Linked DNA regions of Homo sapiens. The protein of the gene in region 1 interacts with the protein of each later gene in a pairwise test. Each region holds a gene or a part of one and is shown in the gene's direction. Other genes may lie near its edges. The genes, in order: DROSHA, SMAD1, TULP3, ZNF512B and DYRK1A.

Region 1 (6,336 bases):
TAGTGGAGCTGTGAAGGCTACCAGGTGATCTTACAAAGCAGTTTTTCTACTTAGCTGGATTCTCAAGGTCTCTGTGTTCTACCTAAATTTCTTGGGCTTAAATTAAAATCTACCCTGTAGGTTTTGTTGTTATTGTTGTTTTGAGACAGCATTTTGCTCTGTTGCCCAGGCTGGAGTGCGTGGTGCAATCATAGCTCACTGCAGCCTCAGCCTTCCAGGCTCACGTGATCCTCCCACCTCAGCCTCCTGAGTAGCTGGGACTACAGGTGTGCACCAACATGCCTGGCTAATTTTTGTATTTCTTGTAGAGACAGGGTTTCACCATGTTACCCAGGCTGGTCTGGAACCCCTGGGCTTAAGTGATCCTCCCGCCTCGGCCTTCCAAAGTGCTGGGATTACAGATGTGAGCCACCACGCCCAGCTGACCCTATAGGTTTTTCCCTCCAAGTACATCCATAGGATGGGTCTTTGCAGATTTCAAGCCCCAGGAAGTCAGGGAGATGGAGTTGTTTTTTCATCTTTCTTTATTGACTGAGTTAATATTAATATCTGTGAGGACCAACATTAGGCAAAGTGTTGGTTCACCAAGTAGTAATGCCCAAGACTGGGGTTCCAGAGACAGTTAGGGATGACATAAGTGGTTCACTCTCGGATTATAATTATAGTCCTCAGGCCAAATTTATGGCCATATTGAGACCCTGTTTTGTGAAGTCTTAAAATCTTTTTTTCCTGGCAAAGACAGATGTGGAGGATTCAAAACTGGTATTCTCATTGCTGAAATTGTCCATATGTGGACATTTCCAAACATTTTGCAAATATCTTTTTCTTTTAGGAGTTACGGTTTATCGGTTGTTCCTGAACCTGCTGGATGCACACCAGAATTACCTGGGGAGATTATTAAAAATACAGATTCTTGGGCCCCACCCCTGGAGATTGTGAATCAGTAAGTAGATCTGGGGTGGGGCCTGGGAATTTGTATTTTTAAACAAGTAAACTTCAGGTGATTCTGATGCCACCAGACTGGTATTTGGGAGTCACTGGTTTAACAAAAGTACACACGGTGATTTGGCATGGTATTCATATTTTAGGTGAAAAATGCACCAAATAGGTGAAATAGAATAGTTTTTACAGTGGAAGAGTATTTTTAATAATTAACCTCCTTTGCCCTCTTTTGAAGTCGCTCCCCAAGTAGGGAGAAGAAGAGAGCTCGTTGGGAGGAAGAAAAAGACCGTTGGAGTGACAACCAGAGTTCTGGCAAAGACAAGAACTATACCTCAATCAAGGAAAAAGAGCCCGAGGAGACCATGCCTGACAAGAATGAGGAGGAAGAAGAAGAACTTCTTAAGCCTGTGTGGATTCGATGCACTCATTCAGAAAACTACTACTCCAGTGACCCCATGGATCAGGTGGTAGGTCTGAAGTAGCAGACAAGCTGTAGACTAGGGCTTCTCGGCGTTGTCACTATTGGCCTTTGGGGCTGGATAAATTCTTGATTGTGGGGACTGCCCTATGCATTGTAGGATGTTTAGCGGCATCTCTGGGCTCTACCTGTTAGATGCCAGTAGTACCCCTCCCCAGTTGTGGTTACCGAAAATGTCTTCAAATATTGCCAAATGTCCCCTGGGGGGAAAAGATCACCCCCAGTTGAGAATCACTGTTACAGACAAAAGCCGTTTTAAAAAGCTAAAAGCCAAGAGTGCAGTAGGTTAATTAAAATATCTTTTTATAATGCATTTTTATTTATTTATTTTTGAGACAGGGTCTCGCTCTGTCACCCAGGCTGGAGTGCAGTGGCACCATCGTGGCTCACTGCAGCCTTGATCTTCCAGGCTCAAGTGATTCTCCCACTTCAGCCTCCTGAGTAGCTGGAACTACGGGGCACGTGCCACCATGACTGGCTAATTTTTTTTTATTTTTTAGTAGAGATGAGGTCATACTATGTTGCCCACTCTGGTCTCGAACTCCTGAGCTCAAGCAATCCTCCTGCCTTGGCCTCCCAAAGTGCTGGGATTACAGGTGTGAGCCACTGTGCCCAGCCTATTCTACATTTTTAATGATACTGGTAGTCTCAGTACTGGTGGTTTCATAAGCTTTCACATGTAACTAGTTTATGCAGTTTGTAGTGTGTATGTGTATGTGTGTGTGTGTGTGTGTGTGTGTGTGTGTGTTTTCTCCAAAATGAAAAATAAGGAAGAATTTGAGTTTGTCTCTTCGAAGTGTATCCTTGACCAAAAGAGCACCAACCCTACGAAGTTGCCCATGCATATTGGCTAGTTTTGCAGAAAGGGAGAGCCATTGTCACCCTTAATGGGCTGGAGGGAGGACTCCTAGAGCACATGCTGCCAGGGCCGGGGCGCCTGTGGTGCTACAGCCGGCGTGCTCATTGCCATGACAGACTCCACCACTATTTCTACATGCTCACTTCTCTTTTCTTTCTTCCATCTCCATTTTATTTTCTGTCACTGTCACCTTTTTGCTCTCTCTTCCCCTCTTCCCCCTAGGCGTTATGCCTCCATCCTGTTAGGCATATTTGCCACAGAGTAGGCATGTTGTAATGTTCATTGATTAAATGAATGAGTGGACATCTCATTCATTTAATTAATGAACTCGTGCAGATTTCGGGCATGAAAAGTTGCAGATGTTAGATTTAGTGTATGGGATTAGATAAGAGATAAGAGAGAGTTGTGTTATTTGGAATTTTGTGAAAATAGCTTCTATTTGGACTCGTATCTGTGGGGAGCTTGAAAGGAGATTTCTGTGTTTTTGGAAACAAAGGATTTGAGAAGTCTCTCATAGTGGTGTGATATTTTATTTGATAAATTAGAGCAGGCTTTTAAGTCATAGTTGATGTGGTACAGGGAAGGGAAAGCTCACATACTGTGCACTTTACGGTGCCTGAATGTTATTCCATGCTTCTCATGTTGTCTTAGTTGACCCTGAAAACACCCCTGGCAAGAAGGTGGTTCTGTCCGTTAGAAATGCTGCTAGGAGTAATAACACCTGACTAAGTGGGACTTAAACAAGCTGGGTTTGTTCTTCTCATAATAAGGTACCTGGAGGGAGGCCATGGCTGGTGTTCACTGAGTGGCTCAGTGATGGCAGGCCCTGCTGTCTTCCTGAGCATCTTCCACAGTTGCAGGATGATGCAGGACTAGCAGGCCTCAGGTCCTTACACACCCGCATCCTCACACGCAGGATGCAGAGGGCATGTTGGGTGAGCATTCTTCTAGTGTCTTGCCCGAGCTCTCCTTTCATCCCTTGACTCCCCTTCCATCCCTTTACCAGAGCCATGTGACATGCCTACCCCAGGGATTCATTTTTCCTTACTGCCATGACAGAGTTCCACAAATGGCATGGCTTGAAACCGCACACATTTGTCATCTCACAGCTTGGGAGGTCAGAAGTCCAGCATGGGCCTCACTGGCTCCATCAGGATGTCAGCAGGTCTGTGCTCCTTTATGGAGGCTCTGGAGAAAATCTGTTTTCTTGCTCATTCAGGTTGCTGGCAGAGTTCAGTTGCTTGTGTCTGGAGGACAGAGGACCTTGTGTCCTTGTTGGCTGTCAGGTGTGGGCACTTCTTGGTTCCTCCAGGCCATGTGCATTCCTTGACTTGTGGATCCCTTCCTCTGTCTTCGAAGCCAGCAATGGTGGTCGAGTCCTTCTCGTGTTTTGAATATCTCTTGCCTCTTTTTCTGTTGTATCTCTGACCCCTGTTGGCAAAGGTTCCCTGATTTTAAGGATTCCTGTTCTAAGATTGGGTCCACCCAGCTGCAAATCCTTTTTGCCATGTAAGTTAACATATATATTTAATTTCTGGGGATTAGGACATGGACATCTTTGGGAGGGGCTGGTGGCTCAGCCTACCTTCCCAGAGATCAGGAGTTCTCTTCTCCAAATCTTACAGAATCCTGCTTCTATTAGGAAGAAGGGAAGAATGGCTGCCATAGGTGTTATTATTCTTAAAACAATAAAGATGAAGACACTGAAGTTCAGGGAGTTTAAACAGGCAGGGCTGGTTGTTTTTTATTACATCGTTATGAGTATATTAAAACTCCAGTGTAGGAGGAAGACTGATAAACTCAAAAGGCTGACATTTGCCTTTGAGTTTTGTCGTCTGTGTGGTGCAGAGAAGGTGGTGAGAATGTCAAAGCTATACCGGCATCGCCACTCCCAACAATGAGATGGGGCCTGAATTATCCCCTCTTCTGGGTACCAGATTTTATGATTTGCCTTAATTTTACATTTGACAGGTCTGGTTTTTACATTTTAAGGCTACTAAGTCAGAGTGTGGAGATGTAAAGTGATTTTCAACCTGGAAATTGAGTGAGGAAAAGTGGAAAATTTTCTCTAGGAATCTGTTGCAGAGTCCCGTGTTTGTGGTATGTGTTTGTGTGTGTGTGAGAGAGAGTGTGTGCATGTTTATGTCCTCGTGTTTAAGGCATGAGAGTGTGTGTGTGTGTGTGTGCGTGTGTGTGAGAGAGAGAGAGAGGGGATATATAGGATATTTCTTATTGCTCGATGGATTGATATAGGAGAAGATAGGTTATCAGTGATTTTCAGTAGGAAGTGTACATTCCCTATGAGGGTATTTGATGTCAGTTGTCATGATTCTCTGAGGGTCATGATTTTTTAAAAAATGTCATATTAATAGGGCATAGATGAACTGTTCTAATGTTTCTTTTCTGTTTTTTTTTTTTTAGATGAGGTCTCTCTATGTCACCCAGGCTAGAGTATAGTGGCACAGTCATAGTCATAGCTCACTGCATCCTCCAACTCTTGGGCTCAAACAGTTCTCCTGCCTTAGCCTCCCAGGTAGCACAGGCACACACCACCTGGCTAATTTTTTTCTTTTTCATAGAGGTGGGGTCTTGCTATGTTGCCCAGGCTGGTCTTGAACTCCTGGCCTCGAGCAATCCTCCTGCCTCTGCCTCCCAAAGTTGCTAGGATTACAGGCGTGAGCCAGCACGCCTGGCCTGTTCTAATGTTTCTGAATGTTGGCAAGGCACATTTACCTGAAGACTGTGTCAGCGATAAGTGTGTGTTTGATTCAGAGTATGATTGCCAGTACTTGAGCATTTTGTTTTTAAATGTTTGTTAAATTTAGGGTTGAAAAATAGCATCTTGCTGTTAAAAATGCTTTGATTACCTGTGAGATCTTACATATCTTTGATATGATCGTTATTGATATAGTTCCTAATATTGATCCTTTATTTTTAAAAGGGAGATTCTACAGTGGTTGGAACGAGTAGGCTTCGTGACTTATATGACAAATTTGAGGAGGAGTTGGGGAGCAGGCAAGAAAAGGCCAAAGCTGCTCGGCCTCCGTGGGAACCTCCAAAGACGAAGCTCGATGAAGATTTAGGTGAGTCAGAGTCACTAACTAGCCTGAGACCCTTGCGATTATAGCTTCATTCCTAAATTTTGGGGAAATACCCTTGAGAGTCCCACATTGAGATTTCTTCTTTTTCATTTTATTTTTCTTAATTACAGTCAGTAAGATACATAGCAGTAGAACTTCCTTCTTTTTGATCGTATTTTTCCTTAGTTCATTTGGCAGAATACAGCAGCGATCTCATTTGCAAGGCATGCTAACAAGGGTGCCCCTTGGAGAGTTGTCCAGTCAGAAGAGTTCAGCATCTTTCCGAGAGCAGGAGCCCATGCCCCCTGCCTCTCATGAGGACAGGTGTCCTTCCTTGGCCCTCTCCTTTGCCAGGTGCGCCTGGTTTGATGAGGGAAACAGCGACTGTACCCCAGCTCTGTTTGAAGGTTTCTCTCCACTTGTGTAGACAGTTTGCATAGCTTTTTCATAAGGTGGTCTATTTTTTCATGTGTATGTTCTGAGGTTCCAAGTAGGTTGTGAGATCTTTGAGAATGGAAATTGCTTTTTATCACTTTGTATCCTTAGCCCCTAACAGAATGCCATGCACAGATGAGACATTCAGTGTGCATTTAGCTACATGTTCTCTCTAGCTCTTATCTGCCCACCTCCATTACATCCCACACGCTGAGAGGCAGTTATCCATACTGGGCAAAGACACCTGAGTTGGGAGTTGGATGGCTTGGGTTTGAATCCCTGCTCTACCACCTACTTGATATGTGACCTTGGGCCACAGGTTAATCTCCTTAGATTTTTCCCATTTGTAAAATAGGGATGACAGTAGACAGTAGCATCTATCTCATGCAGTACATGTAAATACAACTCCATGTTGGATTTCATTATGCTACTACTATGTTAATCTCTTATAGGATTAATTTATTTTAAAAATTAATTATTTTTCTTTTTGTGGAGATGGAATCTCACTATGTAGGATTAATCTAACTTCTAGGTCTGTTTTT
Region 2 (6,336 bases), on another chromosome or scaffold:
TGCTGTTGCCATGCATTTTAATTGTACATATATTTTAAACATCACAAGACATTCCTATTGTTGTTTTGTGAAGTCAGTATTCATTTAAACTTACCCTTATTTCCCCTTCAGGAGCTCTTCCTCATTTCCTGCAGTTCTTTGCTTATTTCTAGAGTCTTTTTCCTTCTGCCTGAAGAATTCCTGTTAGTATTTCTTTTAGTGACAATCTGCTGTAAACCAGTTCTCTCAGATTTTGATTGTTGGAAAGCATCTTTATTTCACAATCATTTTTTGAATGTGTTTTTCCTCTAAATGTAGAATTTTAAGTTACCAGCTATTTACGTTTGGCACTAATGATGTCATTTCATTGTCTTCTGGTTTCCATTGTTTATGCTGAAATGTCAGCTGTCAACCTGATTGTACTTACTTGAAGGTAATGTGCCTTTTTAAAGAGTTTCATCTTAGGTTTTCAAGAATTTTACTGTTATATGACACATTGAAATTTGTGGATTTCTCTGTATGTATCCTTGGAAGGTGTAGGGCTTCGTGAATGTATGGTTAGATGTCTGTTGACAGTTTTGGAAAAATCCTTGGCTAGTATCTAAAAATATTGCTCTGTTACAGTCTTTCTTCTTTTCCTTTAAGACTCTACTTATGCAGTGCTAGACCTTTCACTAGAGCCATTATGTCTCCTTAGTTCTTTATTTTTCATTTTTTCCCTCTCTTTGCATTAGTATGAGCATTTTTTACCAGTCTTCCTGCTCACTAATCTTTTATTCTACTGTATTTAACCTGTTGTTAAGTTCATCCTATTTAAAGTCTCATTAGTTATATTTTTCAGTTCTAGAATTTTTATTTCATTCTTCTTTATGGATTCCAGTTCTCTGTTAAAATCTTCAACCTTGTCTTCTCTTTCCTTGACATAGTAAATAGTAATCATTAATACTTTAAAGTCTGTTTCTGGTAACTCCATTACCTGGGTCACCCGTTAGGTCTGTTTCTATTCTGTTTTGTTTTGATCATTTGGTCCTGTTTCTTGGTATGCTTGATAACTTTTGGTTCATTGCATACACTGTGAATTTAAAATTGTAGTGGCTAAGGTTGATGTTGTCTTCCTCTACAGAGAATTTGTTTTTCTTCTGGCAAGCTGTTAGAGAGCAATACCCATCACCTAGACCAAGGCTAGGATTAAGATGATTCTAGATTGGTTGTAAAGACTGATCCGTTTCATTTTTGCCCTTAGACTGGGGCATATTCCTCCAGGAGCTTCCATTGAAAGCCTAGACTATTTACCAGGGTTTCTCCTCAGCAGGCCCTCAACTCCATTTGTTGCTGTGTTGTTATTTTGGGGTTCCTCAGCGCTATGAGGCTACTAGAAGCTCTGCTTAGTTTTTAGCCTCTTAGTTACCTCTTTCTGCTCGGCTCCTAGACCTTTTGCTGCTCATAGCATAGCTATTGGCAAATCCCTGGAAAGAGTGGTGACGAATATTCAGCTCACTTCATTGCATTTCCCCTCTCTCCAGGATCTTGGCCCCCTCAAGTCCTGAGTGCCTTGGTTCCTCTTTGATGCCTTTAAAAAGCTGGGCTTTTGTTTGTTTGTTTTCTGGCTTGTTTGTTTGGAAGGAGGTTGGTCTGATACGTGCTACTCCAGTTTAGCCAGGGTTTGTACAAAGTTAACCTCCTTAACCTTTTTCACATTTTATGTTTTCATGTGCTAAAGAGTAAACAGTTTAAATGAGGCAACTTGGCTAAAGAATTTGGTACAGTATGTGTCCATGTGCTTTATTCCTTTTATGTCAATAAATAGCAACATTTTTAAAGCAGGAGATGTATTTCCTATCCTATTTGTCCTGTAGCCCATAGACACAGGCTTGTTCACTGAAGAAATACCCTAAAATATTACTACATTTATATAAGAGGAATTTTCTTTTAGCCTAAGAAATATTTGTAGAACAAACCAAAAAAACAGAGATATTAGACTATTTTTTTCTCCCTGTTGCTTTCAGTTTTTGTTGATTGAGGTGTTTTGAAATATATTTTTAGAGGTTATAAATGAATCTAAATCTAAAATATTACAATATCTTTTGAGAACTTGGGCTTTTTAACTTTGTTGCTTTTATCCCAGAGCTTTTGCTAACAGTGGCTTACTTTTTAAACTGCTTCTCAGTTTACTCATCTGTAAAGTGGCAGCAATTGTATTACCTAACTCAAAGGATTGTGAAAAGCATTAAATGCTATATATTAGTCTGCTTTGGTTGCCATAATAAAATATCATAGACTGGGTGGCTTAAATAACAGAAATAGATTTTCTCTTTGTTCTGGAGTCTGGAAAGTCCAAGATCAAGGTTCTGGACAATACAGGCTCTGGTGAGGGCTCTCTTCCTGGCTTGCAGATGATCACCTTCTTGCAGTACCCTCAGTGTGTGTGCATAGAGGCTGGAGGAGGGAGATAGCAATCTTAAGACCACCAGTCCTATCAGGTTAGGGCCCCACCCTGATGACCTTACTTAACTTTAATTACTTTCTTAGAGGCTCCATCTCCAAATATAGTCATACTGAGAGTTAGGGCTTCCGCATATGAATTTTAGGGGTCACAATTCAGTCCACAGCATACTGTATTACATAAAAGCACTTAAAATAGTACCTAGCACATGGTGATTACTTAATAAATGTGGTTGTATGGTAAAGATGATTCTAACCATTCTTTTTTTGTTTTGTAGGTGCTGACTGGGTTACTTTTTTAAACACTAGGAATGGTAATTTCTACTCTTCTGGACTTCAAACTAAGAAGTTAAAGAGACTTCTCTGTAAATAAACAAATCTCTTCTGCTGTCCTTTTGCATTTGGAGACAGCTTTATTTCACCATATCCAAGGAGTATAACTAGTGCTGTCATTATGAATGTGACAAGTTTATTTTCCTTTACAAGTCCAGCTGTGAAGAGACTTCTTGGGTGGAAACAGGGCGATGAAGAAGAAAAATGGGCAGAGAAAGCTGTTGATGCTTTGGTGAAAAAACTGAAGAAAAAGAAAGGTGCCATGGAGGAACTGGAAAAGGCCTTGAGCTGCCCAGGGCAACCGAGTAACTGTGTCACCATTCCCCGCTCTCTGGATGGCAGGCTGCAAGTCTCCCACCGGAAGGGACTGCCTCATGTCATTTACTGCCGTGTGTGGCGCTGGCCCGATCTTCAGAGCCACCATGAACTAAAACCACTGGAATGCTGTGAGTTTCCTTTTGGTTCCAAGCAGAAGGAGGTCTGCATCAATCCCTACCACTATAAGAGAGTAGAAAGCCCTGGTAAGTGAGTTATTTTATGTTGATGTGCTTTGTGTGCCCAGTACCAGATTTGTGTTGTTTAGAACATGAAAATAATCCCTTTGCTTGTTTTTAGTTGTAATTTAAAAATATTTGGGGAAACTGTGTGTGTGTGTGTGTGTGTGTGTGTGTGTGTGTGTGTGTGTCTGTGTGAATGCAAGAGAGAAAGCCCCTGAGTGTTTCATACATTTTAACAGCTTAGTCATCTCTAGTTAACATTATGTCTTGGGAGCAGGCTATGACAATTGTCATTGCAGTACTAATACCTCTAATTTTTAATAAATTGTTTTCTTTCTAAATTTATTTTTTATGTCTCACATGGTTCTCTGCATTTCTCTAGATAAAATTAGCTATGAATTGTATTCTAAGGGAAGAAAATTAGGAAAGAAATGCATTATTGCTGTCTATATGCTTAAGGGAAGTACATCATGAGGGTAGTTGCCAGTGACTTAAACCATTCTGAACTTAAGAACAGCACTTTTTATCATCTCTGGCGGAATTTTGCTGTGGCATATTTCCTATGGTGAATATGAAGGAATTATATCCTTCTATGGAATCATTTGATGCTATTACTTTATAAAATATACCCAGTTTTTACATGTATAGTCTTTTGGGAGGGTATGGTAAAGGATATATTTTAAAATTTATACGGTTTTGCCCTCAAGTTAGAATCTACATTCTAGAGAGTTGGATCATTGGAAAGTGATTAGATATTCAAGCACTTAAATGTCTCATTGTCGATTGGGACCAATTTTGTTGATGGATTGGCTGTTAATAGTTCCTGGGTTACTAAGGCTGTATATTAGAATCACATGGCTCTCCTCCCAGAAATCCTGATCCTGGGATAGCCTGGTAATCTTTGTTTCTAACAAGTACTTCAGGTGTTACTGATGTAGCTATTGGATTGGTGTTTAGGAATTACTAAACTAGATCATGTAATAACATGGTTTTCAAATAAAAGGCATTCTGTATTTTTGTGGAATATTTAAGACATATTTTAAAAAAAGATTTTAAAGACCAGTAGTATAACAAACATCTCTGTATCCCCTACTCATTTTAAGAAATAAAAGATTACGTGTAAACTGGAACCCCTGTTTTTGCTCCTCTGATTCTGCTCCCTTTGGTAACCACTGTTCTGAATCTGACGCTTATCATTCTCATGCATGTTTTTATACTGTTATTACATATGTATGAGTCCATGACAATATGTAATATTTTATATATTTAAAAATGTTACATAATATTGGAGTTTCTTTGTACAACTTATGTTCATCCAACATTACGTTTTTGTGATTTCTAGATTATATACTTTAGGATTACCTTGTTAAGTCCTATGAAAAACACTTTGGGAATTTATTGGAATTTCGTTGATTTCATTTGGGGAAGATTGGCCTACTGTGCTCTTGAGCATAATATTATTTAGTGCACTTTTAAGTTTCTCCATACAGCTCCTGCACTTACTAGATTTATTTCTAGATAACTGGTTTTTATTGTATCCTTTTAAAAGTTACATTTTGTTACAGTTGCTCTTGGTTAAGAGAGCATTGCCTTTTTTCTAACAACTGTGCTGAATTCTCCTTACCAGTTTGGATATAGACGTTCTTTACTGCTTGTTATATCAGCTGTGATGCAGTGTTCTTTTTTCTAAACTCAGCACAGAGGTACATGTCCCTCTTCTAGCCAGAAATGGAAATGGAGCTAAGAGTTTTGGAGAGTAAAATGTAGTAGATAAGTAATATGTACCAGCAATATTATTTAGGCACATGATTTTTTTGATCCTCGTAGTAACCTTAAAATGTATTAATACATAGGTAAGATTTTAATTCTACTCCATATGCGATGAAACTGAGGCCCCTACAAGTTAAGTGCCTTGTGTTAGAACTAGAAAATAGAGGCATTTGACATGAAAGGCAAAATTCACTATTTAAAAGACACTATGAATATGTCTTCTCCATCCATACTCCCCCTCACCCTGCGCTAACCTTCCAGCATTTCATCTTGCAATGCAGCAACTGCCTCCTGACTGGTCACCCCCTTCAGTCCATTGTCTACAGAAAGGGATCTTTTAAGATGCAGACATGATCCTCTTGTTGTCCTACTTTTCCCTACTCTTGAGAAGTCCTCTAGAGAGGTCTGCACATTCTGGTCCTTTCCTCCCTTTCCAACTTCCTTTGTACTCTTGCATGCTTTGTGTGCTTGAGTTCTCTGGAAACATTCCATGCACGTTTCCTCTATCTGTACCTGTTTCTCCTCCCTCTTTGTCTAGCCCACTCTTATTTATCGTTTGTGTCTAGCACATGGTCATTACTTAATAAACTAAGTAATTGTGTGATGGAGGTCAGTTTCATTGGGAAACCTTTCTTGATACCTCCTACTTCACACATATCTCCCTACTCTGCTTGGGGAGGTTAGGTCTCATTTCCCATAGCAACCTGAATTTCTTTAGAATGTTCTTCACACTTATAATGATTGTTCTGTTGGTCTTCTCTGCAAGATAGTAAATAAAGCTCCATGAGGGCAGGGACTATGTGTATAATTAACATCTCTATTTTTAGCAACAAGCATAATTTGATAAATTTTTGCTGTTAAATGGTGATGCTGATTTTTAATTTAATATCGTCATTTGGCCATTTTTTTAGTGCTGAATTTTCAGTTTATCTATACCTTTTGACCATCTTCTTCCCTTCTTTGGTCATTTTATGGCTATTACACCTCTGATACAAGGTGAAAAGTTAAAACCAATACTGAGATGAATTTGTTACTCTTAATAACATATGTGCTAATAAAATAATGGGGAAGAGGTGGAAAACTGGCTTACATAGGCATTTTGAGACTCCACAAATGCCATTTCAGCCTCTCCTTTACCCAGGAATCTTGTGAGTCATGGATAGAATAGAACAGTTCTGGAAAACATGGAGGCTGAGGCTAAGATCTATTTAATTTGAACATATCAAGATTTTATGTATATTTTTCACATTATGAAGTGACTGATGTGGGAATTGGAACAAAGGACTTTTTCCAGAGACCACTATGAAGCAGTCCC
Region 3 (6,336 bases), on another chromosome or scaffold:
CAGAGTTCTACAACCATTTTCACAATCAATTTTACAAAATTTTCATCACCCCCAAAAGAAACCTCATAACCTTCAACAGTCATTTCCCATTTCCCTCCAATCCCCTCAGCCCTAGGCAGCCACCAGTCTACTTGCTGTCTCTGTGGATTTGCCTGTTCTGGACATTTCATATTGATAGAATCATACACTATTTGTCTTTTTGTGTCTAGTGTTTTACTTGCATAATGTTTTCAGGGTTCCTTCATGTTATAACAAGTGTCCGTACTCCATTCTTTTTATTGTTGGATAACACTCCATTGTATGGATAAACCACATTTTGTTGATCAGCTGATGGACGTTTGATTGTTCCCACTTTCCCTGTTAGGAATAATGTTGTTATCAACACTCATAAGTTTTTGTATGGACCTATGTTTTCAGTTGAGACTGATTTTTTTTTTTTTTTTTTGAGACCAAGTCTTGCTCTGTCGCCCAGGCTAGAGTGCAGTGATGTGATCTCGGCTCACTGCAACCTCTGCTTCCTGGGTTCAAGGGATTCTCTTGCCTCAGCCTCCTGAGTAGCTGGGACTACAGGTGCCTGGCTAATTTTTGCATTTTTAGTAGAGATAGGGTTTCACCTTATTGGCCAGGCTGATCTCGAATTTCTGACCTTGTGATCCACCCATTTCGGCCTCCCAAAGTGCTGGGATTACAGGCATGAGCCACTGCGCCCGGCCTGAGATTGATTTTTTTAAAACTGACCTTTGTCTTATCCTTGTGTTCTTCAGTAAAGCTAATACCAATCTATGTATGTACCGTATAAAAATAGATCATTTTTCTTTCCGAGATGTTGAATGTGCACAAAAAGTGGTTCAGAGAAAAAAGCCACACTTGTTAATTCCATCTGTAAATCTATGATTCAAGGACCATTTCAGTGAGGGGTAACTTCACCCCGCAGATACTAGACACAAGGGAATTTAGTTTAGGTCTTGCTCTGCCTCTTTCTCTTGGAGAAATGATTCTTCCTGAGCCTGTACTCCCACATATAAATCTGAGGCTCGTCACTCTTTCATAACACACATTGATCACACTTTATTTTACATCTGCATTCCTCTCCAGATTATATACTCCATGAACAAGAAACAATAGAAAACAAAAAGACTATCAGTATCTCCTCCTCTAACTCAAATGTAAGAATAAAATGAAAAAATAGTTTTTCATCCAGCAGTTTTAAATTTCCTATAAAAGATGCTCCATAAATCCAAAGTACTAGTATTTCAAACATTCCTAGTTAGATTTAGTTAACTAGACAGAGATTAAGAAAATGCCAGGGGGCCAGCCATGGTGGCTCACGCCTATAATCCCAGCACTTTGGGAGGCTTAGGCGGACAGATCACCTGAGGTTGGGAGTTCGAGGCCAGCCTGACCAACATGGAGAAACCCCGTCTCTACTAAAAATAAAAAATTAACCGGATGTGGTGGCACATGCCTGTAATCCCAGCTACTCGAGAAGCTGAGGCAGGAGAATCGCTTGAACCTAGGAGGCGGAGGTTGCGGTGAGCCCAGATTGCACCATTGCACTCCACCCTGGGCAACGAGAGCGAAACTCCATCTCAAAAAAAATAAATAAATAAAATAAAAAGAAAATGCTGAGGGGAATAAAACTGCTGTAAAGAATAATGCATCATTGAATTTTTTTTTTACTGTGGTAAAATATGCATCGTAACATAGAAGTTACCAGTGTTGGCCTGGCATGTTGGCTCACACCTGTAATCCCAGCACTTTGTGAGGCCAAGGTGGGCAGATCACCTGAGGTCAGGAGTTTGAGACCAGCCTGACCAACATGGTGAAACCCTGTCTCTACTAAAAATACAAAAAAATTAGCTGGGCTTCGTGGCGCACACCTGTAATCCCAGCTACCGGGGAGGCTGAGACAAGAGAATTGCTTGAACCCAGGAGACGGAGGTTGCAGTGAGCTGAGATGGTGCCACTGCACTCCAGCCTGGGCAACAGAGTGAGACTCCATCTCAAAAAATCATAATAATTTACCAGTGCTGCAGCTCTTTTTAGAATTTGTCTAGCAAGTTTTCCTGTTTTTACTGAAGCCTTCCCTTCCCTTCCAAATAACAAAAAGTACACTTTTTTTTTTTTTAAGAGTTCGGGTGGGCCGAGACGGGCGGATCACGAGGTCAGGAGATAGAGACCATCCTGGCTGACACGGTGAAACCCCGTCTCTACTAAAAATACAAAAATTAGCCGGGCATGGTGGCGCGCGCCTGTAGTCCCAGCTACTTGGGAGGCTGAGGCAGGAGAGTGGCGTGAACCCGGGAGGCGGAGCTTGCAGTGAGTCGAGATCGCGCCACTGCGCTCCAGCCTGGGCGACAGAGCGAGACTCCGTCTCAAAAAAAAAAAGAGTTCGGGTGTAATTCTGTCACCCAGGCTGGGGTGCAGTGGCACAAGCATAGCTCACTTTAGCCTCAAAATCCTGGGCTTAAGTGATCCAACCACCTCAGCTAGCTAGGACTACAGACACACAGGTACCATCGTGACCAGCTAATTTTTTTAAAAAAACTTTTTATGGAGACAGGTCTCAAACTGGTGGCCTCAAGCAGTCCTTCTGCCTCAGCCTCCCAAAGTGCTAGGAGTTCAAGCACGAGCCACTGTGCCCTGCCTAAATTTTTTTTGTTTTGTTTTTTTGAGACAGAGTCTCTGTCTCCCAGGCTATAGTACAGTGGCACAGTCTCGGCTCGCTGCAAGCTCCGCCTCCCAGGTTCAAGCGATTCTCCTGCCTCAGCCTCCTGAGTAGCTGGGACTACAGGTGCGTGCCACCACACCCGGCTAATTTTTTGTATTTTAGTAGAGATGGGGTTTCACCATGTTAGCCAGGATGGTCTCAATCTCCTGACTTCGTGATCTGCCCACCTCAGCCTCCCAAAGTGCTGGGATTACAGGCATGAGCCACCGCGCCCAGCCTGCCCTGCCTAAAATTTACAACTTTAATCAATTTTAAGTGTGAGATTCAGTGACATTAAGTGTATTAACAATGTTGTGCAACCATCACTACCATCCATCTCCAGAACTTTTTCATCATCCCAGAGACTTCACACCCATTCAAGATAATTCCTCATTCTCCCCTGCCCCCAGCCCCTAGTAACCTCTATTCTACTTTCTGTCTCTATGAATTTGCCTGTTTTATGTATTTGGACAAAATAGTTGTGTTTACGGTCAGAATAGTTAAGAATGTTTTAAGCAAGAAAATTAAAACTATCTTTGTTTCAAAGACCTTTTTTAAACAGTGTTGGCAGTGCTAACAGTTCTTCCTTTTCTGCTAGATATCTCTGAAAGTGTGAACTTCGATGAGGAGACTGATGGAATATCCCAGTCAGCATGTTTAGAAAGACCCAATTCTGCATCAAGCCAGAATTCAACCGTATGTAGTTCTGAAACTTCTTCCATTAGAGCTAATTTGACTCTTTCTCAAACATATCTTCAGTATTTATTTATTTATTATTATTATGTATTTTTTGAGGTGGAGTCTCGCTCTGTCACCCAGGCTGGAGTGCAGTGGCATGATCTCAGCTCACTGCAAACTCCGCCTCCCGGGTTCACGCCATTCTCCTGCCTCAATCTCCCGAGTAGCTGGGACTACAGGCGCCCGCCATGACACCCGGCTAATTTTTTGTATTTTTAGTAGAGACAGGGTTTCACCATGTTTGCCAGGATGGTCTCGATCTCCTGACCTCGTGATCCGCCCGCCTCAGCCTCCCAAAGTGCTGGGATTACAGGCATGAGCCACCGTGCCCAGCCCTCAAACATATCTTCAGTATTTAAATACCATTACTGAGTGAGGGTTCCTTCAGAAGTGTAAGCTCAAATTTAGTTTATGATCTAATTTTTTCTGTCTCAGGTCAGCTATTGTGAGGCTTTGTCCCATTTTGATACTTACTCTTCATTACTCTCAATATTCATATACTTAATTTAACTTTTCAGTTTTCCTCATTCTGTCAGAAGACTGAAGACACGGGTAAATTACTAAGTTGCTTTGTCCACTAAGTGTTTTTCAAAGAGAATCAGATTTTGAGTCTCGGCCTGTTGTTGCTCATGTATGGCTGTCCTTTCAGGATACAGGCACTTCCGGTTCTGCTACTGCCGCCCAACCAGCTGATAACCTCCTGGGAGACATAGACGACCTGGAGGACTTTGTGTATAGTCCTGCCCCTCAAGGTGTCACAGTAAGATGTCGGATAATCCGGGATAAAAGGGGAATGGATCGGGGTCTCTTCCCCACCTACTATATGTACTTGGAAAAAGAAGAAAATCAGAAGGTATGAGAATTGATTTCTAAGAAAACTCTTGAGAGAGAGAAGAATGTTGTGGGAATAGATTGTTGATGGGCCTTAGGGAACTAACTCTGGTATTAGACCAAGCCAGCTGGAAGTAGATTGTATCTTTCAGTCCCCAGATGCTGTGTTCTCATTTTCTGCAAAGAGCTCATGGTCTAATAGGCAGCAAGCTCTACCCTCCCACAAATAAGAGCTTTATCCACGAAGTGGGAAAATGGACGGGTAGTTGTTAATGTAATTATTTTCACCTGTCTCCCATGATTGAGTTTTTGAATGTTACTGTTTGTTCTTTTGGTTTTTCTTTTTATTACGGAAGAACATGACATTGTGGAAGGAGAGTGAGTTTTAGGGAATAGGAGGAATTAGAAATACAGAAGGACCTACAAGTTAAATGTCTTGTTTCTCACCCTAGAAGTTCTAATTTATTTTATAAGTTTGAGCCAGCGATGAACTTTATTTTATTAATTTTGTATTAATACCAGGTCTTAACAGATGATTTTAAGAGCCTAGAAATAAGATAATGATACTAGGTGTTAATTCTTCTAACCACCATTTATTGAGTGTTTACGACAGACCAAGCATATGCATATATATCTATATATATTATCACCTGTAATCCTTGCAGCCACCTTGTTAGGTAGGATTTCTTACCTCTGCTTTAAAGATGAGGTAACTGGGGCTTAGGGAGTGACTTACCTACCCCACGTTGCACTAAGTGGTGGCAGAGCCAAATTCAAACCTATTTTGCATAATTCTAAAGTCTTCCTGCTTAGCCACTGCCACTCTCCTGCTTCCCTATTATGGTCCTAGTCTAGGAGAGTTTAGGAAGGATGCCTATATAGGATGGTATTCATGCCATTGAGGTCACAGTGGTTTAACACAACAGCAGTATAGAAAAAAGAGTATTTCCTCCCTGGAGAGGCTTCCCTTTTGTCCCTTCTTGCCCTTTGCCTAATCAGAGTCTTTCCTGATGTGCTTCACCAGATGTGGTTGACATTCCTCTGTCTGTGTCCCCATGGCATGAAGAAAGCTATCACAGGCCAGGTGCGGTGGCTCACACGTATGATCCCAGCACTTCGGGAGGCTGAGGCAGGTGGATCCCTTGAGGACATGAGCTCGAGACCAGCTTGGCTAACATGGGGAGACCCTGCCTCTAGCAAAAAATTAAAAAATTAGCCAGGAGTGGTGGCATGCACCTGTAGTTCCAGCTACTCGGGAGGCTGAGGCAGGAAAATCACTTGAACCTGGGAGGCAGAGGTTGCAGTGAGCTGTGATTGCACCACTGCACTCTAGCCTGGGTGACAGAGTGAGACCCTATCTCAAAAAAAAAAAAAAAAAAAAGCCATCACAGTAAAGAATGGGAAGGTTTTCAGGATCCTGTCTCTCCTAAGGTTGGAAAGACTCTTAATCATGGCATTGGATGAACATTGATTGTTATTTATTTATTGGATTTTGCAAGGTTGCCCAGGCTGGCCTTGAACTCCTGGACTCCAGTGATCCCTCTACCTCAGCCTCCCAAGCAGCTGGGATTATAGGCTCATGCCACCTGGCCCAGCTTTGGAGATTTTTTTTTTAACTGGAAGTTTTAGGGATGAAGTTGTAACTAATTATATGGAGAATCAAGCTAGTGAATTTAGAAAAACTGTATAGGAAGAAAACCCTGATAGTGAATTATTTTATTTTTATTTTTTATTTTTTTTTTGAGACAGAGTCTCATTCTGTCACCCAGGCTGGAGTGCAATGGCATGATCTCGGCTCACTGCAAGCTCCGCCTCCTGGGTTCATGCCATTCTCCTGCCTCAGCCTCCTGAGTAGCTGGGACTGCAGGCGTCTGCAACCACGCCCAGCTAATTTTTTGTATTTTTAGTAGAGACAGGGTTTACGGTGTTAGCCAGGATGGTCTCGATCTCCTGACCTTGTGATCTGCCCACCTCGGCCTCCCAAAGTGCTGGGATTACAGGCGTGAGCCACCACACCCTGCCTGATAGTGAATTCTGATAAGAGAGTTAGAGAAAGG
Region 4 (6,336 bases), on another chromosome or scaffold:
CAAGCCGGTGACAGTCAGCAGGCCCATTGCTATCAGCAGACACACACCGCCCTGCAAAATGGTGCTGCTGACCAGGTCGGAGAACAAAGCACCTCGTGCCACAGGGAGGAACAGTGGTAAGAAAAGGTATGGGGGCTCGTCCCAGGTCGGGGAGGAACAGTGGTAAGAAAAGGTATGGGGGCTCGTCCCAGGTCAGGGAGGAACAGTGGTAAGAAAAGGTATGGGGGCTCGTCCCAGGTCGGGGAACAGTGGTGAGAAAAGGTATGGGGGCTCGTCCCAGGTCGGGGAGGAACAGTGGTGAGAAAAGGTATGGGGGCTCGTCCCAGGTCAGGGAACAGTGGTAAGAAAAGGTATGGGGGCTCGTCCCAGGTCAGGGAACAGTGGTGAGAAAAGGTATGGGGGCTCGTCCCAGGTCGGGGAACAGTGGTAAGAAAAGGTATGGGGGCTCGTCCCAGGTCGGGGAGGAACAGTGGTAAGAAAAGGTATGGGGGCTCGTCCCAGGTCGGGGAGGAACAGTGGTAAGAAAAGGTATGGGGGCTCGTCCCAGGTCGGGGAGGAACAGTGGTAAGAAAAGGTATGGGGGCTCGTCCCAGGTCAGGGAACAGTGGTGAGAAAAGGTATGGGGGCTCGTCCCAGGTCGGGGAGGAACAGTGGTGAGAAAAGGTATGGGGGCTCGTCCCAGGTTGGGGAGGAACAGTGGTGAGAAAAGGTATGGGGGCTCGTCCCAGGTCGGGGAGGAACAGTGGTAAGAAAAGGTATGGGGGCTCGTCCCAGGTCGGGGAACAGTGGTAAGAAAAGGTATGGGGGCTCGTCCCAGGTCGGGGAACAGTGGTGAGAAAAGGTATGGGGGCTCGTCCCAGGTCAGGGAACAGTGGTGAGAAAAGGTATGGGGGCTCGTCCCAGGTCGGGGAACAGTGGTGAGAAAAGGTATGGGGGCTCGTCCCAGGTCGGGGAACAGTGGTGAGAAAAGGTATGGGGGCTCGTCCCAGGTCGGGGAACAGTGGTGAGAAAAGGTATGGGGGCTCGTCCCAGGTCGGGGAACAGTGGTGAGAAAAGGTATGGGGGCTCGTCCCAGGTCGGGGAACAGTGGTGAGAAAAGGTATGGGGGCTCGTTCCAGGTCAGGGAACAGTGGTGAGAAAAGGTATGGGGGCTCGTCCCAGGTCGGGGAACAGTGGTGAGAAAAGGTATGGGGGCTCGTCCCAGGTCGGGGAGGAACAGTGGTGAGAAAAGGTATGGGGGCTCGTCCCAGGTCAGGGAACAGTGGTGAGAAAAGGTATGGGGGCTCGTCCCAGGTCGGGGAACAGTGGTGAGAAAAGGTATGGGGGCTCGTCCCAGGTCAGGGAACAGTGGTGAGAAAAGGTATGGGGGCTCGTCCCAGGTCAGGGAACAGTGGTAAGAAAAGGTATGGGGGCTTGTCCCAGGTCGGGGAACAGTGGTGAGAAAAGGTATGGGGGCTCGTTCCAGGTCAGGGTGCTCCTCGGCCACGGCCTGGGGGTAATGGGGCCCACAGTTAGGCCCTCCTGGCCCTCACCTCACCTGCTCCCTGCAGGGCTGCGGACAGCCTGGACACCTGCCCAATTCCACCCAAGCAGGCCAGGCCAGAGAATGGGGAGTACGGCCCCTCCTCCATGGGCCAGAGCTCGGCCTTCCAGCTGAGTGCAGACACCAGCAGTGGCTCCTTGTCGCCAGGCAGCAGGCCGTCAGGGGGCATGGAGGCACTGAAGGCTGCAGGCCCTGCGTCCCCGCCTGAGGAGGACCCGGAGCGCACAAAGCACAGTAAGATGAGAGCTCCAGGGGTGGCGGCCGGGGCAGGCTCGGCCTCCTGACGGTTATTTCACCAGAATCTTGGCCCCCGTTTTCTCTCCCCGAGTCAGGAAGGAAACAGAAAACACCCAAAAAGTTTACAGGGGAGCAGCCATCCATCTCAGGGACCTTTGGGCTCAAAGGTAAGACCCCAGCCCGGTGTGCACCTCCAGGGCTGGGGCTGTCCACCGAGTGACAGCCCCTGAGCCCATCCCTGTTTCTCTCCACCCCATGTGTGCACACAGGCCTGGTCAAAGCTGAGGACAAGGCCCGAGTTCACCGCTCCAAGAAGCAGGAGGGGCCAGGCCCTGAGGACGCCCGGAAGAAGGTGCCAGCTGCCCCCATCACTGTCAGCAAGGAGGCACCGGCCCCTGTGGCCCACCCAGCTCCAGGTAGGGGCTGCCTGGCAGGGGCTCAGGGCAGCTCTAGACGGCGGGTAGATCCCACAGCACAGGGATGGGGGCTGAGTGTGGAGACTGGATTCTGTGCCTGGCGTCTGGGCCACCCAGCAGCCCCCACAAGCCTTCGAGGCCCCTGCCTTACCCACAGGTGGCCCTGAAGAGCAGTGGCAGAGGGCCATCCATGAGCGCGGGGAAGCCGTCTGCCCCACCTGCAACGTGGTCACCCGGAAGACTCTCGTGGGGCTTAAGAAGCACATGGAGGTGTGTCAGAAGGTAAGGCAGCTCCCGGAAGGCGCTGGGAGGGAGGCGCCCTGGCCCCAGGCAGGCTTCTCACATGTGGGCCATCTGCAGCTTCAGGATGCACTCAAGTGCCAGCACTGCCGGAAGCAGTTCAAGTCCAAAGCCGGCCTCAACTACCACACTATGGCCGAGCACAGTGCCAAGGTACCGTCGGGCCCCCAGCTCCCGTCCAGCGTGACCTCTGACCTCGCACCCCACCTTCACCGCAGTGCCCCCGGTTTCTAACCTCGGACAACGGTGGCCCAACACCTGGGCGGGGCGGGGCCAGGGCAGGGCTCCGTGGCGATGGTGCCGGGTCACCGATGCTCACCCTGTCCCCAGCCCTCTGACGCCGAGGCCTCCGAAGGGGGCGAGCAGGAGGAGCGCGAGAGGCTGCGCAAGGTGCTGAAGCAGATGGGACGGCTGCGCTGCCCCCAGGAGGTCAGTGGGGGGCCGCGGCAGTGTGGGGTGGGGGGGCCCTGCTGGCCACTCACCCACCCTCTGGCCTGACCCCCAGGGTTGCGGGGCTGCCTTCTCCAGCCTCATGGGCTACCAGTACCACCAGCGGCGCTGCGGGAAGCCGCCCTGCGAGGTGGACAGCCCCTCCTTCCCCTGCACCCACTGTGGCAAGACGTACCGATCCAAGGCTGGCCACGACTACCACGTGCGCTCGGAGCACACGGCCCCCGTGAGTGGCTCTCTGTTCTGTGGCACAGTGCTTGTTCCTGTGTGCCGTGTGTGTTCCGTGTGCCTTGGGTGCCAACTGTATTTGTCCATGTACCGCCCAACGCGTGTGTTTCCCACCCCTCTCTGTAAGAGACGTGTGTCCTGGTGGGCGGGAGGGTGAAACCTCCGTGTTCCCTCGGGTTGCCTGCGTCAGCCATGTCCCCAGCACACTGGGAGGCCTGTGGGTCCACCGGCCTTAGGGTGGCCTCGCCGCGCGCTGACCTGACTCTTGCTCCCGCGGCTCACTCTAGCCTCCATGCCTTCCTGCCCTCCAGCCCCCTGAGGAGCCCACAGACAAGTCCCCTGAGGCTGAGGACCCGCTGGGTGTGGAGCGGACCCCAAGCGGGCGTGTCCGCCGCACGTCGGCCCAGGTGGCGGTGTTCCACCTGCAGGAGATAGCGGAGGACGAGCTGGCCCGCGACTGGACCAAGCGGCGCATGAAGGATGACCTTGTGCCCGAGACCGCACGGGTGAGCTGCCCCCCCCAGGGCTGTGGACAGCGCCGTGGCCTCTGCGTGGGGCATGCCTTGGCCTGAGACTTGGGACAGCCACTGCTGTGACCTGGGCCACCCGCTGCCCCCGCCATCTGCGGCGAGTGTCGCCTGCTGCCGAGGCGAGTGTTCTTAGAGCAGCTGGGGTGTCTTCTGGCCTCAGGCTCACCCTGGTGCTGTCGAATTCACAGCTCAACTACACTCGACCAGGGCTCCCCACGCTGAACCCCCAGCTGCTAGAGGCATGGAAGAATGAAGTGAAGGAGAAAGGCCACGTCAACTGTCCCAACGACGTGAGCGGAGGCAGCCGGGTGGGGGGCGTGGGGAGCCATACAGGGCCAGAGCCTGGGTGTGGCCCTCTGAGCAGGAACAGAGGCTGAGAGCTTTCAGGAGGTGCCCAAGCCCACCCCAGGCCTCACATGCCCAGCCTGCCCAGTCCCCAGGACTCACACCCCCTCACTTGCCCCAAAGAGCCTCAGAGATCCCCTGGGGTAGGGCAGGGGTATATCTTGGTGTGGGGTGCCCACCAGAGGCCTTCGCCCACGGCTCCCTTCCCTGCAGTGCTGTGAAGCCATCTACTCCAGCGTGTCCGGACTCAAGGCTCATCTCGCCAGCTGCAGTAAGGTCAGTTCTGGGGCCTGCCCCACGGCCAGGTGCGCTGCACTCAGAGCTCCCAGCTCACCCCACGCGGGCTTCCCACACAGTAGTGAGGGACCCTGCCTTGTCCCCTACTTTTTCTACGTGGCCTCCTCTTCCACGAACCCAGAGACTGGCCGGTGGCTGATGGCCAGCCTAGGACACCTCCCTCGCCCCAACCCCAGCCACAAGACAACGAGTCCTAGTCCTGTCCTTGGAGCTCTGCGTCCATGTAGGCATGGGTGGGCACCCCGACCCACGCAGATGGCACACTGGCTTACAATAAGGGATGCTCGGCAAAGGTCTGCAACTCTTCCCCTGGGCACCTGCCTCTCCCTACCCTTCCTCTCCCCTACCACCCCTGCCGCCCTGGTAACTCAGTGGCCCCCTGCATTGTCTGGCACAGACAGCCACAGCTTTCCTTGGGCCACCGCTGACTCTGACCCTTTAGCCATGAGTAGGGGCTTAGGACAGATCTGGGTCCTCCAAGGGCTGGGGCACTGGCCTGCCTATGCATTGCAGGGGGCCCACCTGGCAGGGAAGTACCGCTGTCTGCTGTGTCCGAAGGAGTTCAGTTCTGAGAGTGGCGTCAAATACCACATCCTGAAGACCCACGCAGAGGTGCGAGGGCCATCACCAGGGCCTGTGGCTGGGGGCTAGCCCAGGAGGGGACAGGGCTGGGGTTGGGCACCCCTTGGGGGTAGAGAGGTCAGTGGCCTGCATGGGGTGTGCCTGGGAGAGTGGCCAATGTGGAGAAATCTGGTAGTTTCTCCTCAAAGTGGGGTCTGGCTTCCCTGGGAGAACTGGGAGGCTTGCACCCTGAGCTGGAGCTGCCCTCGGGGTGTCCGCCTTTCCAGCCCCCAGCAGCCCTGCTGCAGGTGCTTGCCTGGTCCCGAAGGCTGTGTCCAGCCCTGCTGCAGGTGCTTGCCTGGTCCCGAAGGCTGTGTCCAGCCCCCTGCAGGTGCTTGCCTGGTCCCGAAGGCTGTGTCCAGCCCCCTGCTGCAGGTGCTTGCCTGGTCCTGAAGGCTGTGTCCAGCCCCCTGCTGCAGGTGCTTGCCTGGTCCTGAAGGCTGTGTCCAGCTCCCTGCAGGTGCTTGCCTGGTCCTGAAGGCTGTGTCCAGCCCTGCTGCAGGTGCTTGCCTGGTCCTGAAGGCTGTGTCCAGCCCTGCTGCAGGTGCTTGCCTGGTCCCGAAGGCTGTGTCCAGCCCCCTGCAGGTGCTTGCCTGGTCCCGAAGGCTGTGTCCAGCCCCCTGCTGCAGGTGCCTGCCTGGTCCCGAAGGCTGTGTCCAGCCCTGCGGCAGGTGCCTGCCTGGTCCTGAAGGCTGTGTCCAGCCCTGCGGCAGGTGCCTGCCTGGTCCTGAAGGCTGTGTCCAGCCCTGCGGCAGGTGCCTGCCTGGTCCTGAAGGCTGTGTCCAGCCCTGCGGCAGGTGCCTGCCTGGTCCTGAAGGCTGTGTCCAGCCCCCTGCTGCAGGTGCTTGCCTGGTCCAGAAGGCTGTGTCCAGCCCTGCTGCAGGTGCTTGCCTGGTCCCGAAGGCTGTGTCCAGCCCTGCTGCAGGTGCTTGCCTGGTCCCGAAGGCTGTGTCCAGCCCCCTGCAGGTGCTTGCCTGGTCCCGAAGGCTGTGTTCAGCCCCCTGCTGCAGGTGCCTGCCTGGTCCTAAAGGCTGTGTCCAGCCCTGCTGCAGGTGCTTGCCTGGTCCTGAAGGCTGACAGGTCTTCAGCTCTCAGGCTATGCCTGGCTCAGGTGCTCAGCATCCAGTCCCAGGTCTTCATCAGCGCTTTTCTCTCCCCAGAACTGGTTCCGAACATCAGCAGACCCACCTCCCAAACACAGGAGCCAGGACTCATTGGTGCCCAAGAAGGAAAAGAAGAAAAATCTGGCAGGTGGAAAGAAGCGGGGCCGAAAGCCCAAGGAGCGGACCCCAGAGGAGCCTGTGGCCAAGCTGCCCCCGCGCCGGGACGACTGGCCTCCAGGATGCAGAGACAAGGGGGCCCGGGGCTC
Region 5 (6,336 bases), on another chromosome or scaffold:
GACATCTTCCTCCTCTACTGGTAACCAAGGCAATCAGGCCTACCAGAATCGCCCAGTGGCTGCTAATACCTTGGACTTTGGACAGAATGGAGCTATGGACGTTAATTTGACCGTCTACTCCAATCCCCGCCAAGAGACTGGCATAGCTGGACATCCAACATACCAATTTTCTGCTAATACAGGTCCTGCACATTACATGACTGAAGGACATCTGACAATGAGGCAAGGGGCTGATAGAGAAGAGTCCCCCATGACAGGAGTTTGTGTGCAACAGAGTCCTGTAGCTAGCTCGTGACTACATTGAAACTTGAGTTTGTTTCTTGTGTGTTTTTATAGAAGTGGTGTTTTTTTTCCAAAAACAAAGTGCAAAGCTGCTTGAATCAGGAGGAGATTAACACACTGAACCGCTACAAGAGGGCAAAGCTGATTTTTTTTTTAACTTGAAAAGATTGCAAAGGGACATTGAAGTGTTTAAAAGAGCCATGTCCAAACCCATCTTCATGGATAGCTCAGAGGTATCCTCTTTTTGCTCCCCCATTTTAACTTGCCACATCCCAGTCACAGTGGGGTTTTTTTGTCTTTCTATTCAGCAAAAGTTAATATTCAGATGTTGGTCTTGGTCATTTGCCAACTAATTTTAAAGTAAAAGGCACTGCACATAATTTGCATAAAGGGCCCCATGAGGGTGTTTTTTTTTTTTCTTTTTGTCCCCCCCATCCCCCTTTTTTTTTGTTTTGTTCTGTTTTGTTTTGGGTGGGAGGGTGGGAAATTTGGGTTTTTAAGTCCTCTAAACACACTTGGGCACGGAAATGCAGTACTGTAAGGAAGAGGGACCTCCAGCTTCCACAAACACCATCTTCAGCTGTATGAAAGGGACGGTTGTGGTGAAGTTTGTCAGGCACAGTAAGCATGCTGAGTGGCGGGGATCAGAACTCTCCTATCTGAACCTACTGAGGAGCAAAGCAGCAATTACATGGGATCCTGTGGCTCTCCCGTTGCAGAGGCCACAGGAAGATAGGATGGAACGTGACTGGTCTCCTAACCAAGGTGCACTGAGAAGCAATCAACGGGTCGGTCGTGGCCAGTCCTGGGGAGGTCTGAGTGGTGGTCTTTGGGATAACCTTTGGCCTTATGGATTTGGACTCGAAATTAGAAGAGCCTACCATTTCAGATGCAATCACTTTTGGACATGCTTTTGCAGACAGTCCTTAATGCTGAAAACACAGAGAATGGGTAATTCAAGAGGCCTTTCTTTTAAAATAGACTTTTGTGACCCACTAATTGTAAGGTATTGCAAGGTCACTTTGCGTGTGTCATAAAGTTGACTTCCTTATTGGTTGAAGGTCACAGAAGTAGTGGTTTGCTTTGATGGAAATAGCTACAGCTGTGTCCCTTCCTGCTTTTTACTTTTTCTTTTGCTTTTTCTCGGCACGTGGTATCTCCACCATTTCTTCTGCACAAAGATGTCTTCTGTTCATCCTGAACATTTTTAAAAAATGCAGAATTTTATGTGACTGCTTTTTTGCCTCACAATTATGCTGTGAATTTTACAAAAATTTATTTTCTTTTTTGATAATTTATTGTACCAAAGCTGTTTTTATAGCACATAGATGTCTGTAACCAATAATGTAGCAGTTCTGCACTTTGACACAAGGTGTAACTAGACCATTTTTAAATGTCAGTTGAAAATTATGGCTGTACTATTGCTTAAACAAAACTGGAACTGTTGTTGAATCCATAGCCAATACATTTACAGCAATCTGTGTACTGAACATAGTAGATTGACATCTAATTCAAGATTACAACATCTGTTACATTCTAAGTGTGTTCAGGCTTCTGAAGGTAAAGGGACACTGGATCCAGAAGCTATGGAACCAGCAGTTGATTCTTGTATTCCTGATTAACCTACTTGTAAACTTGAAAGCAAGACCTTGATTGCACCAACAGGTCCAGAGTATGAGTGCAAGCAAAGCAGAACTCTCATGCGTGACCTGAGCAGACAGGCTGGTATTTAACAGGTGCCTCGTGTTGAGATTACGCTGCCTTAATGTAACACAGTCTGGCAGTTGCTAAATTTGTGTTCCCATTTTAAATTGACCAATTTTGGGGTGTGACACTTTTGAGCGGTTGAATTGGGAGAATGAAGATAAGTAATTTACCTGTCCAGGATCAAAAGAAGCCTAGAAAAGAAGCAGTAATCTACCTCTGCCGATAACCTGTTTAAGATGACTCAGCAGAACACCGCGTTTCATTCTATTGGTCAATTCCATGTGGCTGACTAGGTCAATTTTTTTTCTGAACAAAAGCAGGTTTTTATATGTAAACAGTGAGAAAAGAAAGGCTAAACACTATGTAAATGTGAATGGAAACTTGGAAATACTCGTTTTTATAAACTACAAAAACTTTTTGTTGTTTATCAGGAAATCCATATTTATTTTGTAATTAACTGTCAAGCCTGTGGATGATTTTTTTGAACTTGGTAGTTCATAAAGGTTTACAGTGAATAAAAGGATATCATCTTGAGTATAGCAATATCAAAAGGAATTCAGTAGTTACTGCTGTTTAGGAATATAAGGTTAAGATATCATATGGGTCAGGTCATTTTTTTTTTCTGTGCTGGTTGCCACATCTTAGCAAGCACCAAAAAACTAAAGCAGTTTTTAAACCGATATTTACGTAAAGAAAATCATAAAATCCAATGCTTCTGCATACTGTGTTATGTTACAGTCCAGTTTTGTGTGCTTTACTACACAGTTTGGTTACAGGACTTCTGTGCATTGTAAACATAAACAGCATGGAAAAGGTTAAATACCTGTGTTCAGATTGTAAGATCTAGTCCGGACTTGCTGTGTATATTGTAACGTTAAATGAAAAAAGAACCCCCCTTTGTATTATAGTCATGCGGTCTTATGTATGATAAACAGTTGAATAATTTGTCCTCAGACTCTTTACTATGCTTTTTTAAAAATTAATTTAAGAAAAATGTAAACATAGTAAAAATCTTCCTATGCAATTAAACTGGTCCAGGTCTGGTAGGTATAGTATCAAAGTTGAGTTAAATGTGTAAAAAGGAAACTATTTGAGATACATTGACATAGGCATCAGCAATCTCTGAAAGTAAAAATTGGAGGTTTAACAGATCATTTTGATTTTTCACATTGATTTTTTTATTTGAATGTTTACATAATTTTGTGATTCAAAATGCTCATATTTTAGTTGGTAGCATTTCGACTGGATGTGAGGGTCTGATGGTTTTCTCTGATATGCTTTGACGTGCTTGGATGAAGGAAGGAATACGAATACTCATTCTTCCTTCCCTAACTCCTCGTACGGGGCCATATCAGAATTCTAGAATTCTTGCCACTGTGATTCAATTGCTAACCTAAAGTCTTCTCTTTTTACAAATTCACCTGCTTCAGTATATATTAAGGTGGCTTTCGAGAGGCAAGATGCTTATTTAAAAGTTAAGCGTGAATCTGTAAAATTAAGGTTGGTTGCGTAAAGTTGAAGTTAACCACATGTAAGAAAGGAAAACTTCCATTAGTTTTCTTCTTAGGGTGTGAGAATTTTACCTAGGCACATGGATATTGGGCTGAAAAAAAAAAACCGACATTTTTATTTAAAACTACATGTAAAAAATCATGAAAGATTCAGTAATTATGTTAGGCTCACAAGTGACCATTGAGTTTGCCCCTGTACTGCTTCCCAGCTTTTGTGGTGTTGAACTTTTCTGTTCTTCCAATAGGGAGATACATAATCAAAATACACACGAAGACGAGATAGCAGGCACTCAGTTCTAGGCCAGTTTCTCAGTTTCCTTTGGGCCTGCCTTTATTTTGATAGTCGCAGAATGCAGGTTCAGATGCGATCCGGTGCATTCTGGGTGGTATCCCCATAGACAGAATACAAGTTCAAGACTCATTTTTATGTCCATTTTTATAGTGGTAGACTGTATGTAATAGACCAGATGGTTCATTCCAAATACATGACTTGGTCTTACTGCTATATATGAAGGAAGTTTGAAAATGTAATGGGGACAAAAGCCGTGCGTGACTTCGGTATACCCAGACTTCATTCAGATTTCTTAAAAATCTGCTAGGGATGTCTGTTGACCAGACGTTGGAAAACCTTTGGTGTCAGGGAGAGTAGAGGAGAAGTTCTGATTTTCATAACCCTGGTTTCTTATCTAGGCCTGTTTCCTTGCGTGAAAACATACATCACCAAGTAATTTGTAGTACAAAGAACAAGAGAAGAAACCCTAAGAAGATAGCTTATTTGTTATCCTCCCTTTTAATGACTAACCTTAATCCAAATGAATCCACTGAGAACCAGCCTGTGGATGCCTACTGGGCTTTCACCCTGGACCAGGAATTTTTGACGTATGCCTGTGTTGAAGGCACTGGATGCTTGTTTTGTGGAAGACATGTTCATTGAGGTAAGTGGCTCATCGCTTGGTGTGTTTGGCTCTCTTTGGCATTATGCATAGCCAAGGTCCCAGATTTTGGCTGCTCTCAGTGGGTGTTCTTGCATCAGAACTTTAAAAAAAATAACACTACCTTAACACTGAGACTGTCAGGTATTTGTCAGTATTTATTTCTAATTTCCTACTTTAAATCTTAGGAGACAAAGTGTTTCTCCAACTGGACGCTGATTTGAAACACAACTAGAATGCTACAGGTCTCTCTTCCAGTATGCAGCTGCTGTACCTGAAAATTTTTCCCCATAATTTCCCATCTTTAGGGTATGTCCCTGTTATCAGGTGTGGAATTAATGTGGGTAAATTTCCATTTCAGTTGAATTTCCTGTCATCCCCAGCAAAACCTGTGAATCCTTCTTCAAAGCATAGAGGAGGCAGAGACAAGTCTTAAACCGGCTTCCCTTCGCTTTTACCAGGTAGCCTGGTTCAGTCCCAGCTGGGTCCTGAAGGAGCACAGTACTAGAGCCTGAGTCATGTTGACTATTAATAAAGTGCATTAAGTTTGGGTCAGGCAAAGTGGTGGCAAAAGTTCATGATGCAGGACAGAGGAAACAAGTGGACAAGACAAGTGGAGCCCAGCTCTGTTCGCATGGGAGGCCGGGCGATGCTGGCATGGGTGTGGTTGGCCGAGTTCTCATAGCTAGAGAAAGGCCGTGTAGGTATAAGTGCTTAATGTTTCATCTGTCTGAAAGACCAGCTATTTGATAATCTTCCCGATTAAATTTCTAAAATTGCTACTTTGGGAATTTTTTTCTTTATTCTTGTAAAGTTTTGCTTCCATTATATACTCATTCATTAGTCAGTGTACTTGCCCCTGAATTCCATATCTGAAACTGCAGTCACGGGAGATTCAGAGCCAAGGGCAAAATAAAGTGGCAGGCACTGGGTGTGTGTGGTAGTTCTGCACTAGGGTGGCCAGGAAGCAGCCAAGCAGGTGTGCCGGGCAGGGAGTTGTTAATGAACACCCAGGCAAGAGGACGGGCCTGAGCCTGAGTGTGGCCAGCAGAAAGTGTTGAGTTGCTTAAAAGAGACCCTGGGAGGATGAATTTGGAATCATCATCCACTCACTGTTGGACAGAAAGACTGCAGAGAAGGGCACTGCTGGGGTGGGGTTTGTTAACTCCCTCTGAAATGAAAGAAAATACCTCTAGTGGCATGAAACGGCTAAGTTTTTTTTAATGTTACTTCTTTAATTTTAGAGACGGTGTCTGGCTTTGTCACGCAAGCTGGAGTTTGGTGGTGTGATTGCAGCTCACTGCAGCCTTAAACAACTGGGCTAGGTGATCCTCCCATCTCAGCCTCCCAAGTAGCTGGGACTACCTGTGCACACCACCATGCCTGGCTGTTTTTAATACGGGGTTTTGCTGAGTTGCTCAGGCGCTCCTCAAACTGCTGGCCTCAAGTGATCCTCCAGCCTGGGCCTCTCAAACATAAATAGGCTGGGCGTGGTGGCTCACGTCTGTAAAGATTTAAAGCGGAAAAGCGGAATGCAGTGAAATAGCATGAGAAAGAGCGTTTTTATGTACATCACAGACAAGCCTTGTTCTGCTGAAGAGGTGATGCCACGAGGTGGGGAGGAGCTCACTTCAGGCACCACTCCCACTTCCATTGCCCGCAAATCCAGGAAAGAAATGACTAATGAACTCTAGTGATCGCAAACTGCTCAATCGGTACTCATCAATTTAAAATGACTGTCCAGCCTTGCTGCACACTAAACTCATCTGTAGAACTTTATAAAACCACGGATGACCATCACACTAGCAGGATTTTAGATTCAGAGTTGGGGTGGGGCCTGGAGCTCTGTTTTCTGAAACTTTGCGGGCCATTCTGAACCTGCAGCCAGGCAGGACTCTGGCAAG

The links.
Region 2: the proteins of DROSHA (region 1) and SMAD1 interact in binary tests that used the Homo sapiens proteins (3 or more experiments, as listed by UniProt).
Region 3: the proteins of DROSHA (region 1) and TULP3 interact in a two-hybrid assay, tested with the Homo sapiens proteins (one large-scale study listed by BioGRID and IntAct).
Region 4: the proteins of DROSHA (region 1) and ZNF512B interact in a two-hybrid assay, tested with the Homo sapiens proteins (one large-scale study listed by BioGRID and IntAct).
Region 5: the proteins of DROSHA (region 1) and DYRK1A interact in a two-hybrid assay, tested with the Homo sapiens proteins (one large-scale study listed by BioGRID and IntAct).

What each region holds. Positions count from the first base shown.
Region 1 is NC_000005.10:31,510,061-31,516,396, reverse strand, and holds part of DROSHA (ribonuclease 3), read left to right. Parts: intron 1-832; coding exon 833-943; intron 944-1,177; coding exon 1,178-1,409; intron 1,410-5,220; coding exon 5,221-5,362; intron 5,363-6,336. UniProt on the Homo sapiens protein: Ribonuclease III double-stranded (ds) RNA-specific endoribonuclease that is involved in the initial step of microRNA (miRNA) biogenesis.
Region 2 is NC_000004.12:145,511,739-145,518,074, forward strand, and holds part of SMAD1 (mothers against decapentaplegic homolog 1), read left to right. Parts: exon of another isoform or gene 1-1,744; intron 1,745-2,699; 5' UTR 2,700-2,875; coding exon 2,876-3,275; intron 3,276-5,275; exon of another isoform or gene 5,276-5,456; intron 5,457-6,336. UniProt on the Homo sapiens protein: Transcriptional modulator that plays a role in various cellular processes, including embryonic development, cell differentiation, and tissue homeostasis.
Region 3 is NC_000012.12:2,926,940-2,933,275, forward strand, and holds part of TULP3 (tubby-related protein 3), read left to right. Parts: intron 1-2,025; exon of another isoform or gene 2,026-2,086; intron 2,087-3,308; coding exon 3,309-3,406; intron 3,407-4,097; coding exon 4,098-4,301; intron 4,302-6,336. UniProt on the Homo sapiens protein: Negative regulator of the Shh signaling transduction pathway: recruited to primary cilia via association with the IFT complex A (IFT-A) and is required for recruitment of G protein-coupled receptor GPR161 to cilia, a promoter of PKA-dependent basal repression machinery in Shh signaling.
Region 4 is NC_000020.11:63,959,931-63,966,266, reverse strand, and holds part of ZNF512B (zinc finger protein 512B), read left to right. Parts: coding exon 1-126; intron 127-258; exon of another isoform or gene 259-711; coding exon of another isoform or gene 712-755; intron 756-763; exon of another isoform or gene 764-1,362; coding exon of another isoform or gene 1,363-1,403; intron 1,404-1,550; coding exon 1,551-1,777; intron 1,778-1,871; coding exon of another isoform or gene 1,872-1,875; coding exon 1,876-1,947; intron 1,948-2,049; coding exon 2,050-2,196; intron 2,197-2,353; coding exon 2,354-2,478; intron 2,479-2,556; coding exon 2,557-2,649; intron 2,650-2,826; coding exon 2,827-2,925; intron 2,926-3,001; coding exon 3,002-3,172; intron 3,173-3,485; coding exon 3,486-3,680; intron 3,681-3,892; coding exon 3,893-3,994; intron 3,995-4,262; coding exon 4,263-4,325; intron 4,326-4,859; coding exon 4,860-4,958; intron 4,959-6,127; coding exon 6,128-6,336. UniProt on the Homo sapiens protein: Involved in transcriptional regulation by repressing gene expression. Associates with the nucleosome remodeling and histone deacetylase (NuRD) complex, which promotes transcriptional repression by histone deacetylation and nucleosome remodeling.
Region 5 is NC_000021.9:37,512,237-37,518,572, forward strand, and holds part of DYRK1A (dual specificity tyrosine-phosphorylation-regulated kinase 1A), read left to right. Parts: coding exon 1-295; 3' UTR 296-6,336. UniProt on the Homo sapiens protein: Dual-specificity kinase which possesses both serine/threonine and tyrosine kinase activities. Exhibits a substrate preference for proline at position P+1 and arginine at position P-3.